Linked DNA regions of Homo sapiens. The protein of the gene in region 1 purifies or fractionates together with the protein of each later gene. This does not show direct contact. Each region holds a gene or a part of one and is shown in the gene's direction. Other genes may lie near its edges.

Region 1 (3,324 bases):
CTGATTCTGCCTATCATTAGTAGTTATACTTGGAAAGCAGAGGAATTTGTAGATGTGCCACAGATGAAAGATGTTAAGAATGTGTTATAGTGTTCTGATAAACCAGGTCTTTAGCAATATGTAATAGTGCCTACAGGTTGCACTGAATTAGAGCATTCTGTGTAAGGTCTGTTGCTTTGTTTTATGTAAAGTGAATAGGTGAGTAGTGACAAAGAACTAGGTTGTTCTTTCATTTTGGTTTTATTGGTGTTGACATTTACTATCAGTACCTGCCATTTTTTGAAATAAACATTATAATTTTTACATTACTTGGGTATGTTTTTAAGTCTTTTAAACCTCAATATCTCCTCACCTAGAAAAAATATTTTAGGAAACCGAAACTATGATGTTAAATAGTTTGCACAAGGTTTTGAGGCTAGTTGGAGCTAGGACAAAGAGCTTCTAGTTGAGAGATTTTTATAAACTGTGAATTCAGCCTTATTCCAGGGTTTTTTTGTTTTTTGTTTTCAAATTTTTTCTTTCAGCAAAGTAATAAAATGTTTAATTTTTATTAAAATATTAATGTACCTTTTTTTTTTTTTCCAGAGAGTAATGCCTTCTAGCTTTTTCCTGCTGTTGCGGTTTTTCTTGAGAATTGATGGGGTGCTTATCAGAATGAATGACACGAGACTTTACCATGAGGTATTTATTGTTGTTTAATGAATATACTAATTGATACTGGGCTTGTTTGTGTTGTTTAATTGTCAATCTGAGAATTTGAAATTAAACAATCTATATTATATGGCAGTCTTTCTAACTGTTAAGTCTGAGTGTTTCACATTCACTGTTGACTGCAGGCTATCATCAAAACATTACATTTCCTTTTACAAAGGTTCTGGTGACTCAAAATGTTTTCTAAAAGACACTCCCTAATTGGGGAGGGGTCTTTTGAGACAATTTTGTATGTACTTAATCCATGTTTAAGAAAACTGTCCTTTAACTCTTACCTTTGTTTACAGTATATGTTGTTTATGTAATGTCCTGATGTACATTAATATACAGGAAGTACATTAATATATTAATCAGGCCAAGGCCGGGCGCCGTAGCTCACGCCTGTAATCCCGGCACTTTGGGAGGCCGAGGTGGGTAGATCACCTGAGATCAGGAGTTCGAGACCAGCCTGGCCAACATGGTGAAACCCTGTCTCTACTAAAAATACAAAAAATTAGCCAGGCATGGTGGCACGGACTTGTAGTCCTAGCTGCTACTTGGGAGGCTGAGGTGGGAGGATTGCTTGAGCTGGTGAAGGTTGAGGCTGCAGTGACAGAGCAAGACCCTGTCTCAAAGAAAAAAAAAAAAAAGAAACATACCTAAGTTATACAGTTAGTAGGTGGCAGAATTGGAATTTGAACCTAGTAGGATAGGATTGGATTGATGCTTTCTAAACCCTTCACTTAGGGATTTTTTCTTGAAATAACATGGTTATAGTGATAGACCTTTTTTCTTTTAAAAGTGGTGGCAAAGTACTAAACATAAGCTATATTTTTGTTCCCCAGAAAGAGAAATCTAAATTTTATTTTTATTTATTTATTTGAGATGGATGGAGTCTTGCTCTGTTGCCCAGGCTGGAATGCAGTGGCGCGATCTTGGCTCACTGCAACCTCTGCTTCCTGAGTTCAAGCAATTCTCATGTCTCAGCCTCCCTAGTAGCTGGGATTACAGGCGCCCACCACCACACCTGGCAATTTTGTTGTTGTTGTTTTTAATGGAGTGATGGGGTTTCACCATGTTGGCCAGGCCGGTCTTGAACTCCTGACCTCAAGTGATCCAATTGCCTCGGCCTCCCAAAGTGCTGGGATTATAGGCGTGAGCCACACCGCTCCTGGCCTAAATGTTAAAAATACTGTTTTAATTAAACAATATTGAATTTTAGGAATTTATCCTAAAAAGATTCTTTTATATAATAATCTACTAATATTAATTGGGCAATTACTCAGAGTTATACGTACATGAATATTCACAGTAGTATTGTTTATAATAGCAGAAAGGAAGGAAAGTAGGAACTTAATGCCCATTAAATGGCCATTAATTAAATTGTTTATATCCATATGGTATAAAATATATAATTATTAAAATTGGTTGCAGAGATTGATATTTAAGTAATTTTGAAAGATATTCATTTCAGTGTTGAACTTTCAAAAGCAAGTATGAATCTACTTACATAAGATTCTCTGTAGAGATTTCTAAGTATTAAAGATAGTGTTACCTATAAGCTGTGATCACTGATGATTTATACTTTTATATTATTTGATTTTTTTCCTACAGTGACTATTAATCTGTTTTTATTAATACAAGAGAGTGAAACCTTAAAGGCATATAATTTTGTGGCTTTTCTTTTATTGAAAAGTGTTTCAAGAAGTAAATTATAATAAGTTGCTGTTCTAAAACCTAACCAAAAATCTTAAATGGGAAAAATTGAAGTACAAAAAAGGTGATTTTAAGTAAGCTATTTGGTAAGAGCTTTATGGAATGGGAAAGAATAAAAATTTTAAAGCATGTTTTGCAACATAAAAGTAGCACAATTACGTAGGTAAATGATAAGATAGCTTAAGGGAAAGATGTTTCAAACTTGAAGTAATTTTAAAATCTCTTGCATATTTCATTTATACAAATTCATTATATACATTATTCATTTATATACATATTCTTTCAAAGTAAAATCTTTGCTATGTTTCTCTTACATGGTAATTATAAAATCTGTTTACATATGTGTATCATCATTATAATGTATAGAAATTGGAAATAATAATCCAATTTGAGTTAAATAGGAGTTATCTCAGTGTAGAACAAGATGTTCTCTTTAGACTGCATGCTGTTTTGACAACCTATCCTAAAATGTAGGCAGTCTGTTTTTAATACAAAGGATTTTGTAAATCAGTATAATTAAATTTATTGCAACTGTTTATTTTTAAATACAGGCTGACAAGACCTACATGTTACGAGAATATACGTCACGAGAAAGCAAAATTTCTAGTTTGATGGCAAGTACTTAAATTTCAGTTTTTAGAAGTTAATTTTAATGTTTCATTTTAATTTAAGTAGCATATACCCCTGACCCCAACCACCCAAGTTTACATCCCTAAACCCATTCATTCACCTAATGGGGCTCTATAGGATAAATTCTATGGGAGCATAACTTTTCTGACCTTACCTCAAATACAAGAACATTTAGAGCTGCTAGGTACTTAAGCCTCATCTAATCTAATTTTCACATTTTGTTCTAGAGAAATTGAAACCCAGAGGTGTGACTTACTCTGAGTCACATAGCTGGCTGGTGATGGATGT
Region 2 (3,500 bases), on another chromosome or scaffold:
ATAAGGGGTTACATGGTTAGGTGATTTAAAAAAAATGGAGGCTATTACAATAAAAATCAGGATAGCAGTTACCTTCATACTTAATGGCATTGGGGCCCTCTGAGGGCTAAGACTGTTCTGTTTCTTGACTATACCATGTAGTTTACATGGGTGTTCACTTTGAGGTAAGTTATCATAGATCAGTAGATTTTTGTTTTGTGCACTGTTCTATATGACTATTACATTTCACAATTATGCTTACATTAAGAATGTGTATAATGTTATAGAATTTGTTTAGTTCTCATAGGACAGAGCCTACCTTTTGGTAGTATATAATCTTTTTCAACTTCTACACACATCTTCAGGAATGGATTATGTCCAGGAATGGGAGACAAGGAGACTATATTGTCTCCAGGCCAGAGAAACTGTCAGAATTCTTAGCATCCAGATCTCAAGGTAGTAATAATCAGAGCAGGAAGCCACAGGAAATTGCCATGATGTAGCCTGAGCCTACCGCACTTTTTTTAGTGTCATCACAGGCTCTGCATTGCTAGGACTTAAAGAACCTTTGGTCCTGAGGTGCTTTGTGAGTGTGGCAACCATCACACACTTCCTTCCACAGCTTGGAGTGGTTTTAATTAATCATATAAATGATTACTACAGGAGACTTCTTGGGAGCCTCAGGAATTAGAAGGACTAAAGTGGCTCATAGCTCTTTTGACTATGTTACAGGAATAAGAGGGCAGTGTTGTAGATGTGTTCTCTCTCGTAGTTTCAGAAGCTTTGCCGTTGGTTTTCTTGAGTGTTCTAAGTATATGAGCATATTTTTCTCTATGTAATGATAATTTTAGAAATATTTTCCTATTCCTAAGATTTTTAAGTGGCTTTTTTCTTAAAATCAAGAATAGGTATTGAATCTTATTGAATGCCAATTTAGCATATTTAAAAGTGGCTACATAGATTATTTGATATTTTTAATGTGGTATTAACAGATCTAATACAAATTAATTTTCATATAACCTATAATACAAACTTCGTAGTGTTGTAGTAAATTATTCCTTTAATGTACTGAGTAACTTCATTTTTCAGTATAGCATAATGACTGAGAGTGTGAATTCTGAAGTCAGACCTAAATTTGAATCCTAGCTTCTTCACTTACAGACTATTTGGAGAAATTACTTAATCTTTCTTATCTGGTTTTCTCTTCTACAAAATTAGATAGTACTAGTGCCTACTAAAGAAATACTACATGTAAAACACTTAACACAGTGCCTCATACATAATAAGTTTTTTTTTAATGCACACACCTGCATATCCATAGTTTTTGTTATTTTATCTTAGATTTTATATCTGAATTCTTAGGTAAGATTGAACTGCAGTTTTGTGTATATATACTGTCTTTGTCAGGTTTGAATATCAAAGTAGTTTTAAAAACATACAATGTCGGGTCCATCTTGTTGTATATCCTGTGAATATACAAAAAGATTGTAAATATACAATATACAACAATATCAAATTTGATATTATGTGGGAAAAGGGGCTTTCTGAACTTGGTGGCAGACTGGGGCTCAAGACCTATGATGTCCAGAAGAGTAGCTTCTACCCACATGCAGCTGTTTAAAATCAAATACAATTAAAAATTTAGTTCCTCAGTCATACTAGCCGCATTTCAAATGCTTAGTAGCTATATGTGTCTATTTAAATTTAAATAAAATTAAAAATTTATTCAGCTGTACTAGCCACATTTCAAGGGCTCAGCAATCACAATAAACATATAGAACATTTCCACCATTGCAGAAAGTTCTTTTGGAAAGTGCTGCTCTAGACAAACTCATGGATCATGCTAGCCTTGCTATAAGCCTCATTATCAAAGCCAAATACATTGTGAAGATTTGACTAGCTATCCTGAGGTTCTGTGATTCTATGTCTATTTAGAGTTTTAATCATTGAGCTTTTCTTCTCCACACTCTTAGATGGGCAAATACTGTTTTAAAGCATTCATATTTCATATATTAAAACATTTATTTTCTGCTCAAAACATTCTTATCTAAATGGGTGGTTTATATATCTTGAAAATGAAAAAAAAAAAAGTGAAATTCCAGTACATGCAAGGATTTCCCTGGAGGTATATTCCCATTAGAAGTAGTCTTTTCAATCAGAAAGAAAGCAGTTTTTGAATGTTATATAATGTAAATTGCAGATCTTTCATAGTAAGATAATTTTTATGTTCCTATGTTTTTACAGAATCTCCACTGTGTAGTAATTTCTACACAGGAGCTTTGATGCTATTTTGATTTTAACCTTCTGTTATTTCTCTTGAATTTGTCTGTAGGTTTGCAAAGATTCATATCAGTGTATCTGAACCTATTATTCCATTCAGAGAAACAATCACAAAACCCCCAAAAGTTGACATGGTCAATGAAGAAATAGGCAAACAGCAAAAAGTTGCAGTCATACACCAAATGAAAGAAGATCAAAGCAAAATCCCTGAAGGAATCCAAGTTGACTCTGACGGGCTAATCACCATAACAACTCCCAATAAACTTGCCACGCTCAGTGTTCGAGCCATGCCCCTTCCAGAAGAAGTCACCCAGATTCTGGAAGAAAATAGTGATTTGATTCGTTCTATGGAGCAGTTGACATCCTCTTTGAATGAGGGTGAAAATACTCACATGATTCATCAGAAGACCCAAGAGAAAATTTGGGAATTCAAAGGAAAACTGGAGCAACACCTAACAGGGAGAAGATGGAGGAACATTGTTGACCAAATCTGGTCATTTGGCCCAAGAAAATGTGGGCCCAACATACTAGTCAATAAAAGTGAAGATTTTCAGAACTCAGTATGGACAGGTCCAGCTGACAAAGCTTCAAAAGAAGCCAGTAGATACCGAGATTTGGGCAATAGCATTGTGAGTGGCTTCCAACTAGCAACCCTCTCTGGCCCCATGTGTGAGGAGCCTCTCATGGGTGTCTGTTTTGTTCTGGAAAAATGGGACCTAAGTAAATTTGAGGAACAAGGAGCAAGTGATCTGGCAAAAGAGGGACAGGAGGAAAATGAAACCTGTTCTGGTGGAAATGAAAACCAAGAGCTACAAGATGGCTGCTCTGAGGCCTTTGAGAAGAGGACATCACAGAAAGGAGAATCTCCACTCACTGACTGCTATGGACCTTTCTCAGGACAGCTAATTGCCACCATGAAAGAAGCATGTCGCTATGCACTGCAAGTGAAACCTCAGCGCCTGATGGCAGCTATGTACACATGTGACATCATGGCCACTGGTGATGTTCTCGGTAAGGAAGAAAAGGTAAAGATAGTGAGAAATGCCCTGAATAACAGTGAAGTCTCCTAGACTCAAAATCTTGTTTTTGAGACAGGGTCTCATTCTGTCGCCCCAGCTGGAGTGCAGTGGCACAATCTCGGCTCACTGCAACCTCTGCCTACCAGGCTCAAGCAATCCTCTCACCTCAGCCTCTCAAGTAGTTGTGACTACAGGCACACACCACCATGTGCAGCTAAGTTT
Region 3 (3,322 bases), on another chromosome or scaffold:
AAATAGGTTTAGTATTTGCTGTCTGGAAACATTCTGATTAGTGTCTCCTGGGAGGATTATAAATTTATAGTACCCAAAGATAAACTGTTGTTTCCCTTTCCTAAACTTTTAGTGATAATCAGTCTCTGCCGTGTCTCATTTTCATCACTTGCCCTCCAAGCTCCCATCTCACTGAATTCTTGCAGTGTTCTGAATGTTGAGAGCCCCAAGTGGGTCTTATAACAGCCAGTCAGCAACATTTCTGTTTTTCATCTGACACCAAGGGTCTCGTCTCTTTGCTTTTCTACCAGTTATTCTGGGCTCTTCAGCTCTAAAGAAAGTATAGGTCCTGAAATCTTTCCCTACCTTCTCAATTTCCTGGGGAGGGCTTCTTTGGAAAGTGGGATTGGAAATAAGATAAATTTGAAGATAATTGAGAAATGAATGGAAAGTGAAATTGAAGGGTCCATGTTAAGAGATTGCAAGTTATGCTATCACCAAATAGATTTTTTGTGCCTGAGAGGATTAATTCATAGTGCATATTATGTGTTGACTTTATCATTGAGGTCCTGGCACATGATAGCATTGGCATGATATAATTTGAGCTACTGATACTATAGTGTTGCTTCTGGTGTTGTTACCAGAACATCTAAAATATATTAGGATTTTTTTAATGGCAGAGGAAATGAAGACTAATATGACATAGTCCTTGTCCTAGTGATTTACAGTTTAGCAAGACATACAAGCAAAACATTAAAGTAAAGCATGATAACTACTTTAATAAAGCATTTTTTAAATTCATTGGTAACATAAGAGAAGGTAGAAGAGTTTAGCAAACCCTTCCCAAAAGAAATGATTGACAAGTTATATGAGATAATAATTCAGGGAAAGGAAATTCGACTTTCTAAAGCCAAATTATTTGACATTGGTTTTCATATAGCTTGGTAAAAGCTGTTATTTTCTCCCATGTTCTTTATTCTTTGACTGTTATAAGTATGATTTGTACAGAGAAATGGCAATTTCAAAACAGAGGGCTTTGATGGATTAATTGCTTTGAATTGATCCCTCATCTACAGTATCTTGTCAGGTACTTGAGAAAATAATGTACTTAAAGTTTCCTCTTTTGACTTTCTTTTGGTATTCTATACTGTAAGTTGGGGAAAAAAGTATTTTCTCTTCCTGCTAATTGGGCTACTTGAAAATTCCCACCAACTTTGCCAATACCAGTGTTCTGTATAACCCAGAATTCAGAATTAGCTGCAATTAAGGGAATTCACAGCTTTTCTGTAGTCAGAGAGCAAATTGAAATTAAAGAAAAAAGAAATAGTGGGAGGACAAATGAGGTTTTACCTTTACACTTGAAAACAGATTTAAGAACAAGCCTTATACCTAGATTTATTAATACTTTGAGGTATGAGAGGGAAGAGAAGCTTAGAAATACGGCAGAATGGGCTTTCTTTGTTCTTCTCCCAGCTATGCTGTTTTTATTTATTATTGTATTTTTAAGAGAGAAGGGAAGTGTCTCTCCTGGGTCACATTAATTAGGAAATACAGAGTGTTTTCATAATGCGTAAAGTCTAGTCCATTTAAGTCTTGTTTCAAAATGCTATTTATATTATTTGAGCAGGAAGGCAGAGACCTTAAACTGCTCCACCCAATTCATTTTACACAAAAGATTAAAAAGAAAAAAACAGTGTCAAAAGGTCAAGTGCCCAGTGTTGCACAACTAATGATAGGCAAAACAAGAGAGGAGGGGAAAAAAAAGAATCCTGACTCCCGACTCCTAGTTCAGTGTGTTCTTCACTGTTAGAAGGTGCTGCTGAACATAGTTATACCATATGAAGATCACACTATCTATTTGAGATTGTAGAAATTTGATTACTGCAGAGCTCTGGCTGGGCTAGATTCACTTCTTATTCTTTATTGCATTGCAGTATTCTTAAGAGATAAATGGCTCTTTTAGAATCAGATTGGCCTTGGCTGTTGAAATGAGGCATTAATTACCTTGGTAGCTGACACATTCTTACAGGTCAGGGGCTTGATGAAGTTTATCTTCTTCCCTTGTTCCTGTGATTGCTCTGTAAATAGAACACATTCAGAGCCCTTGAATGCACTTGCAGCCTGTGCCTCCCACAGTGATCGATGGTCAGATAATGGGAGTTTAATGACCAGTACTGAGAGAGATTATTTCCATGGCTGCTATGGGCCAAGAAAGCTGGGTGGTCAGAAAGGGACCTTTTCCAGACTCTCCTGGGTTGTGTTATTTCTTTGACATTGGTTTCCTTTCATGAGGCGCCAAGGTGTATTTGTAAGTTGTCCAGTGTTGCACAGCTAATGAGGGGCAAAACAAGAAAGGAGGAAAAAAAAAGTATCCTCACTCCTAGTTCAGTGTGTTCTTCACTGTTGGAAGGTACTGCTGAACACAGTTATATGTTCAGTGTACAATGTACAATGTTCTTTGACATTCCGTCATTTGAAGGATGGGTCCTATGGATAGTATCATCTGCATGGTTTTGAAAACAAAAGATATAAGCTAATTTTGCCCTGTCTAGTGACTACGAGACAGGGAGAGAAAATCTGAATATTTGTTAAAGTAGACACAGACCCATAAATTGAAAAGGACACTAATCCTGCCTTAGGAGACAGTAAGGCACTTGTCCCTGCTATCTATTAGCTGTGTGTCCTTGGACAGCTCATTGCTTCTTTCTGAGCCACCGTTACACGTTATCTATCAAGTGAGCAGGTTGTACACTAGATGAATTCACAGGTCCTTCTTCCAAGTGCTTTTCTAATCTTCATAATTTAGATAATCTCTCAGTAGCAAAACAGTGTACAATATGGTCAATCTGAGATTTTTAGGGGGAGAATTTTAGGGAACATCAGAAATGGCAGTAGTTAAAAGGAAATAGGACTCACAGGCTGACTTCTCTCTATAACTTCACATGGTAGAAGGGATGAGAGTTCTCTCTGGAGCCTTTTGTATTAGGTCACTAATCCCAAAGGCCCCACCTCCTAAGACCATCACTTTTGGGATTGGGGTTTTAACATGATTTTAGAGGGACATAAACCTTCATCTCATTGCATTAGAGATATTTGAAAGCTCAGCTCACGTGTATTCCTCCACAGCTCACATGTATTCCTCCATCACCCAACCTGATGGCTTTGAACGTTGTAGACATAAATCCTTTCATCATTATCAAGAATATTGCCAAAAGCTTCTCAGAAATTATGAGGGGTTTTTTTAGTTTCTAAAATATTCTCAAAGAAAGTCCCATGTACTAATGTTTGCCTTTTGATGAAAAAGGATGAAATCTTAATGATTGCCTTAATAAGCTCAACAATG
Region 4 (4,132 bases), on another chromosome or scaffold:
CCACTGGCACACACTACCCTGCACCCAGCTAATTTTAGTATTTTTTGTAGAGAGAGGGTCTCATTACGTTGCTTAGGCTGGTCTCCAACTCTTGGGCTCAAGAATCCTCCCGTCCCAGCCTCCCGAAGTGCTAAGATTACAGGCTTGAGTCATCGTGTCTGGCCCTGTCATTGCTTTTTAGTTTTCAAACATTTTTTAAAAAGTAAATCTGGCCGGGCACGGTGGCTCACGCCTGTAATTCCAGCACTTTGGGAGGCTGAGGCGGGTGGATCACAAGGTCAGTAGATCGAGACCATCCTGGCCAATATGGTGAAACCCTGTTCTCTACCAAAAATACAAAAATTAACCAGGCATGGTGGTGTGCGCCTGTAGTCCCAGGTACTCAGGAGGCTAAGGCAGGAGAATCGCTTGAACCTGGGAGGTGGAGGTTGCAGTGAGCCAAGATGGTGCCACTGCACTGCAGGCTGGGTGACAGAGCGAGACTCCATCTAAAAAAAAAAAGTAAATCTCTCCAAGCAGTAAGAGTCATGCAACCAAGCTACTGAGTTTCTCCCATGAACTTGTCTCGGAACATAGTGGAAAGTCACAACCATTAAAGCCTGTAGTCCCCCCCACCCTTGCACAACGTGGCCCCCTCTTATGCGTGCCTTACCCTGCAAGGCAAAGATGAAGGCTGTAACTGTGGTAGGTTGTGAAAGCACTTTGAAGGTAAAAGTGTCTGTTGTTACTCTGAAAACTCCTTTTAAACGGCTATAATAGCATATGCCACATGAGCAAAGCACAGAACCTTATAACTATGCTTGCTTGTGGAAAGACATCCCTTGTCCACGGGCCAAGTATTTGAAAATACCACTCCATATAGCTCCAGGGCCCTGAGAGAAGCTACCGTGGCAGCTTTGGGAAACCAGCCACCCTTGGCTTCACTTTGATCTTCCTCAGTCTACATCCTTGTTTCAGTTCCTTTGCCACAGACATACAATTACCAAGTACTATATTGCTTGATAATAACTATAATTACTACAAGGACTGCCTGAGATGAAAAAGACAGGTGAAATCGAACTTTCACATGGACTGGTGTCTGAGCTGGAGAGTCTGTTTGAGTTTGAGTAGGGGAAAGCCTGAAACCCCCCACCACCTGCTCCCGTTAGTCCCTGCATTAACTAGGGGCGGACTGGGACCTGATCCTCCAAGCTGGAGGCTTGAAAACTCAAGGGCAGGCGCCTGGTCCAGCGATTCGGAAACCGAGATGCAAAGTCCTCCCGCGCTCCTAGAGAGGACCCGGAAGCGCGGCGCGGTCCCGGAAGACGAGGTGGTGACACGCTTCCGGCCTTTGTGACTCATTGTGTCTGTGTCGAGGCGTCGGGAGGGCCTAAGTCCGTGTGCGGTGCCCTTCGGCCGGCCTGAGCCCCAGAGTCAGCTCCCCTTTCTCGCCCAGCGCCCCCAGGCCGCTCCCGGGGCTCACGGTGAGACTTGGGGCCGGCCTCTGGGGTGGGAGGGCGGGGCCGCAAGGGTGTGTGCGCGAGGGTGGGCTCCGCAGCTGCGGCCCTGGGACCCCCTCCAGGCGGCCCCGCTGTTGTGCGAAGAGAGTCCATGCCCCTGCCTCCTGGCCGGGCCCGGCCGTAGAAAGCGCCGTTCTTCCTGGGAGACGTCCCCGCCCCACCCCCAGGATCAGGCGGGGAGGGGGCGAGGGTTTCAGTGGCTGAGGGTGCCCGGAGACCCGGGGAGAAGCCGTCTGTGGGCCCCTCTCCCGCAGTGTCGTCATCGCCCTTTGACGTTTCTGCAAACGGGGTCGCGAGCGAACCGACCCCGGTCTTGATTTTTCTGCTCTCCCTTAGTCGCCATTTGCTTTGATTCCGGTGAGGTGTCTTTTTCCCCCCCCGGTTCCTTCGGGACCTCGAGGTGAAATGAGCGGAAGGATGAGAGATGGACACATTTTGAGGTGCCGCATACGTTTCCAGACCTGCCTTTCCTTCTCCCACCCTCATCACTGAGCGGTGATTAAAGAGTATTTGAAGCCTAGTCATAGTGGATAAATAGGTGATTGGGATCTAGTAGAGATTATATACACCCCACTCTTTCAGCTTGATGGAATGCTTTGAAGGCTTTGGAAAAGAGCTGTCCGGGACGTTAGGTGGATTTTTCAATTCTGGATAGTTGCTCTGTTTGACATGGAGTGGGGTGAGAAGTGAAGGGAATTTGTGGAAATTGCACTGTGTCACTAGGAGACTGATTAGCTGAGTGACCTTGGATAAGACGAGACACTCACCAAGTCTTAATTTCGTCATCAATAAAAACTAACTGGATTTTCTCAAAAGGCCCTTCCGACTTCGAAATGATTTGGTCAATGTAATTGAAGAATTAACTACAGTTTAGCTTGACACTCCTCCATCCCTCCCCTCCCTTTCCTGCAGTGCCCCCTGTACACAGTAAGATACTTTCATTATAGAGAGTGGCTGTTCCATGGCCTGGGACCAAAGAAAGCATTTATTGTACGGGCCAGTGCTAGGCGGATTGGAGGCGGTCAATAAATACTTGTTGAATTGAATTGTGGAGAATTCATTGTAACCACATCAGCAAAGCACTGTTAGTATATATGCTGAACAAATGTGGAGAAATCGCTGTTTTACATAGGAAACCATGGTGATTTGCCCCAGAATGTGTATCCAGGTTTGTATCTTCTCTGAATTAACATATAAGATTCTTGTTTATTATTTCAGGCAGTTTTCACCACTCTTAAAATACAAACGAGGAAGCTAGCTACTTAGTCTTTTGCTCATTCTCGATTTAAAAGCATTTAAAATACAGATGAATAGCATATTAAATCTAACATTTTCATTCTGTGGGAGTATCAATATTCTTTGAATAGCTAGCTGTCTTTTAAGGTAGCTTTTTCATATTAAAACATTTGATTGCTCTTTAAAAAAATGAGTGTAAAGGGCAAAGGGCAATTTATTTAAAAAAAAATTTTTTTTTTTTTGAGACAGAGTCTTGCTCTGTCGCCCAGGCTGGAGTGCAGTGGTGCGATCTCGGCTTACTGCAACCTCTGCCTCCCGAGTTCAAGCGATCCTCCTGCCTCCGCCTCCCGAATAGCTGGGACTACAGGCATGTGTCCCAAGGCTTGGCTGATTTTTGTATTTTTAGTAGAGACAGAGTTTCGCCATGTTGGCCAGGCTGGTCTCGAACGCCTGATCTCAGGCAGTCCGCCAACCTCAGCCTCCCAAAGTGCTGGGATTACGGGCGTGAGCCACTGTGTGCCCAGCCTTTGTTTACATTTTCAAGACTATGCCCTGGAAAAATACTGGGCTGTTTGGAACACAGCCTTTGAGCTTGTAACTTCAAGCCGTTGTTTAAGAAAATCATTTCTGTTTATCCTAGGTGAGAACTGAGGTATCCTTAGCTGCTGGAGGTAATTTTATTTAAAGTGGATGGTATGTCAGTATGTTTTTCAGCCCATATTCACCCAGAGGTAGTTTCCTACTATCTGGAACCCCCACCCTACCCCCATTTGACTGATAAAGATACAAAATGCCAGAGAAGTTAAATACCTCTCTCAGGGATGTGCCACTTACTTGTGGGAGACTAGAATTCAGTTATTGCCTGTGCAGCTTTCACTATTACAGGAGTTGTCCCATTGCTTAATCTTCTAAGCAGGCTGAAAATTGGAATGTACAGTTACATCTTTTAAGCTTATTGAAAAAAATTAAGACATTTCTGTAGTGCCTACTAAATGCCAGGCACTATTTTAAGTGCTTTATATCTATTACCTCATTTAATCCTCACGGCAACTCTATGGGACAAATGCTGATTTTTATTCCCATTATACAGATGAGGAAACTGACGCATAGAGAGGTTAACTTGTTGACTTGCCTAAGGCCGTCAACTAGTAAGGGGTGGAGCAGCTTTAATGCTAACCTGAAACTCATCCAACTAGTCCATGGAACAAATTTGAGTGCAACATTGAATGTAGAATGATCGGGCTTTTAAAAAATAGTAACGTTGTCAATTCAGTCAAGTGTATTTTTGAAACTGAGGCTTGCAAGGAATCATGCTAAGTGGTCTAAGGAGTACAAAGAGGACTGCTCTTAATAATCTAGTTGAGGAAGAAGGCAAGAAAAATTACAGAGAAAGAAAC

What was found. Proteins that work in one complex are often made in the same cells at the same time.
Region 2: the proteins of TIPRL (region 1) and EFL1 fractionate together in Homo sapiens (co-fractionation; one large-scale study listed by BioGRID). This does not show direct contact.
Region 3: the proteins of TIPRL (region 1) and CTSC fractionate together in Homo sapiens (co-fractionation; one large-scale study listed by BioGRID). This does not show direct contact.
Region 4: the proteins of TIPRL (region 1) and ZKSCAN1 purify together in Homo sapiens (affinity purification with mass spectrometry, with the first as the bait; one large-scale study listed by BioGRID). This does not show direct contact.

What each region holds. Positions count from the first base shown.
Region 1 is NC_000001.11:168,195,962-168,199,285, forward strand, and holds part of TIPRL (TIP41-like protein), read left to right. Parts: intron 1-585; coding exon 586-681; intron 682-2,957; coding exon 2,958-3,020; intron 3,021-3,324. UniProt on the Homo sapiens protein: May be a allosteric regulator of serine/threonine-protein phosphatase 2A (PP2A). Isoform 1 inhibits catalytic activity of the PP2A(D) core complex in vitro. The PP2A(C):TIPRL complex does not show phosphatase activity.
Region 2 is NC_000015.10:82,151,235-82,154,734, reverse strand, and holds part of EFL1 (elongation factor-like GTPase 1), read left to right. Parts: intron 1-2,311; coding exon 2,312-3,270; exon of another isoform or gene 3,271-3,284; intron 3,285-3,500. UniProt on the Homo sapiens protein: GTPase involved in the biogenesis of the 60S ribosomal subunit and translational activation of ribosomes.
Region 3 is NC_000011.10:88,296,415-88,299,736, reverse strand, and holds part of CTSC (dipeptidyl peptidase 1 isoform a preproprotein), read left to right. Parts: intron 1-3,322. UniProt on the Homo sapiens protein: Thiol protease. Has dipeptidylpeptidase activity. Active against a broad range of dipeptide substrates composed of both polar and hydrophobic amino acids. Proline cannot occupy the P1 position and arginine cannot occupy the P2 position of the substrate.
Region 4 is NC_000007.14:100,014,264-100,018,395, forward strand, and holds the start of ZKSCAN1 (zinc finger protein with KRAB and SCAN domains 1), read left to right. Parts: upstream 1-1,332; 5' UTR 1,333-1,463; intron 1,464-4,132. UniProt on the Homo sapiens protein: May be involved in transcriptional regulation.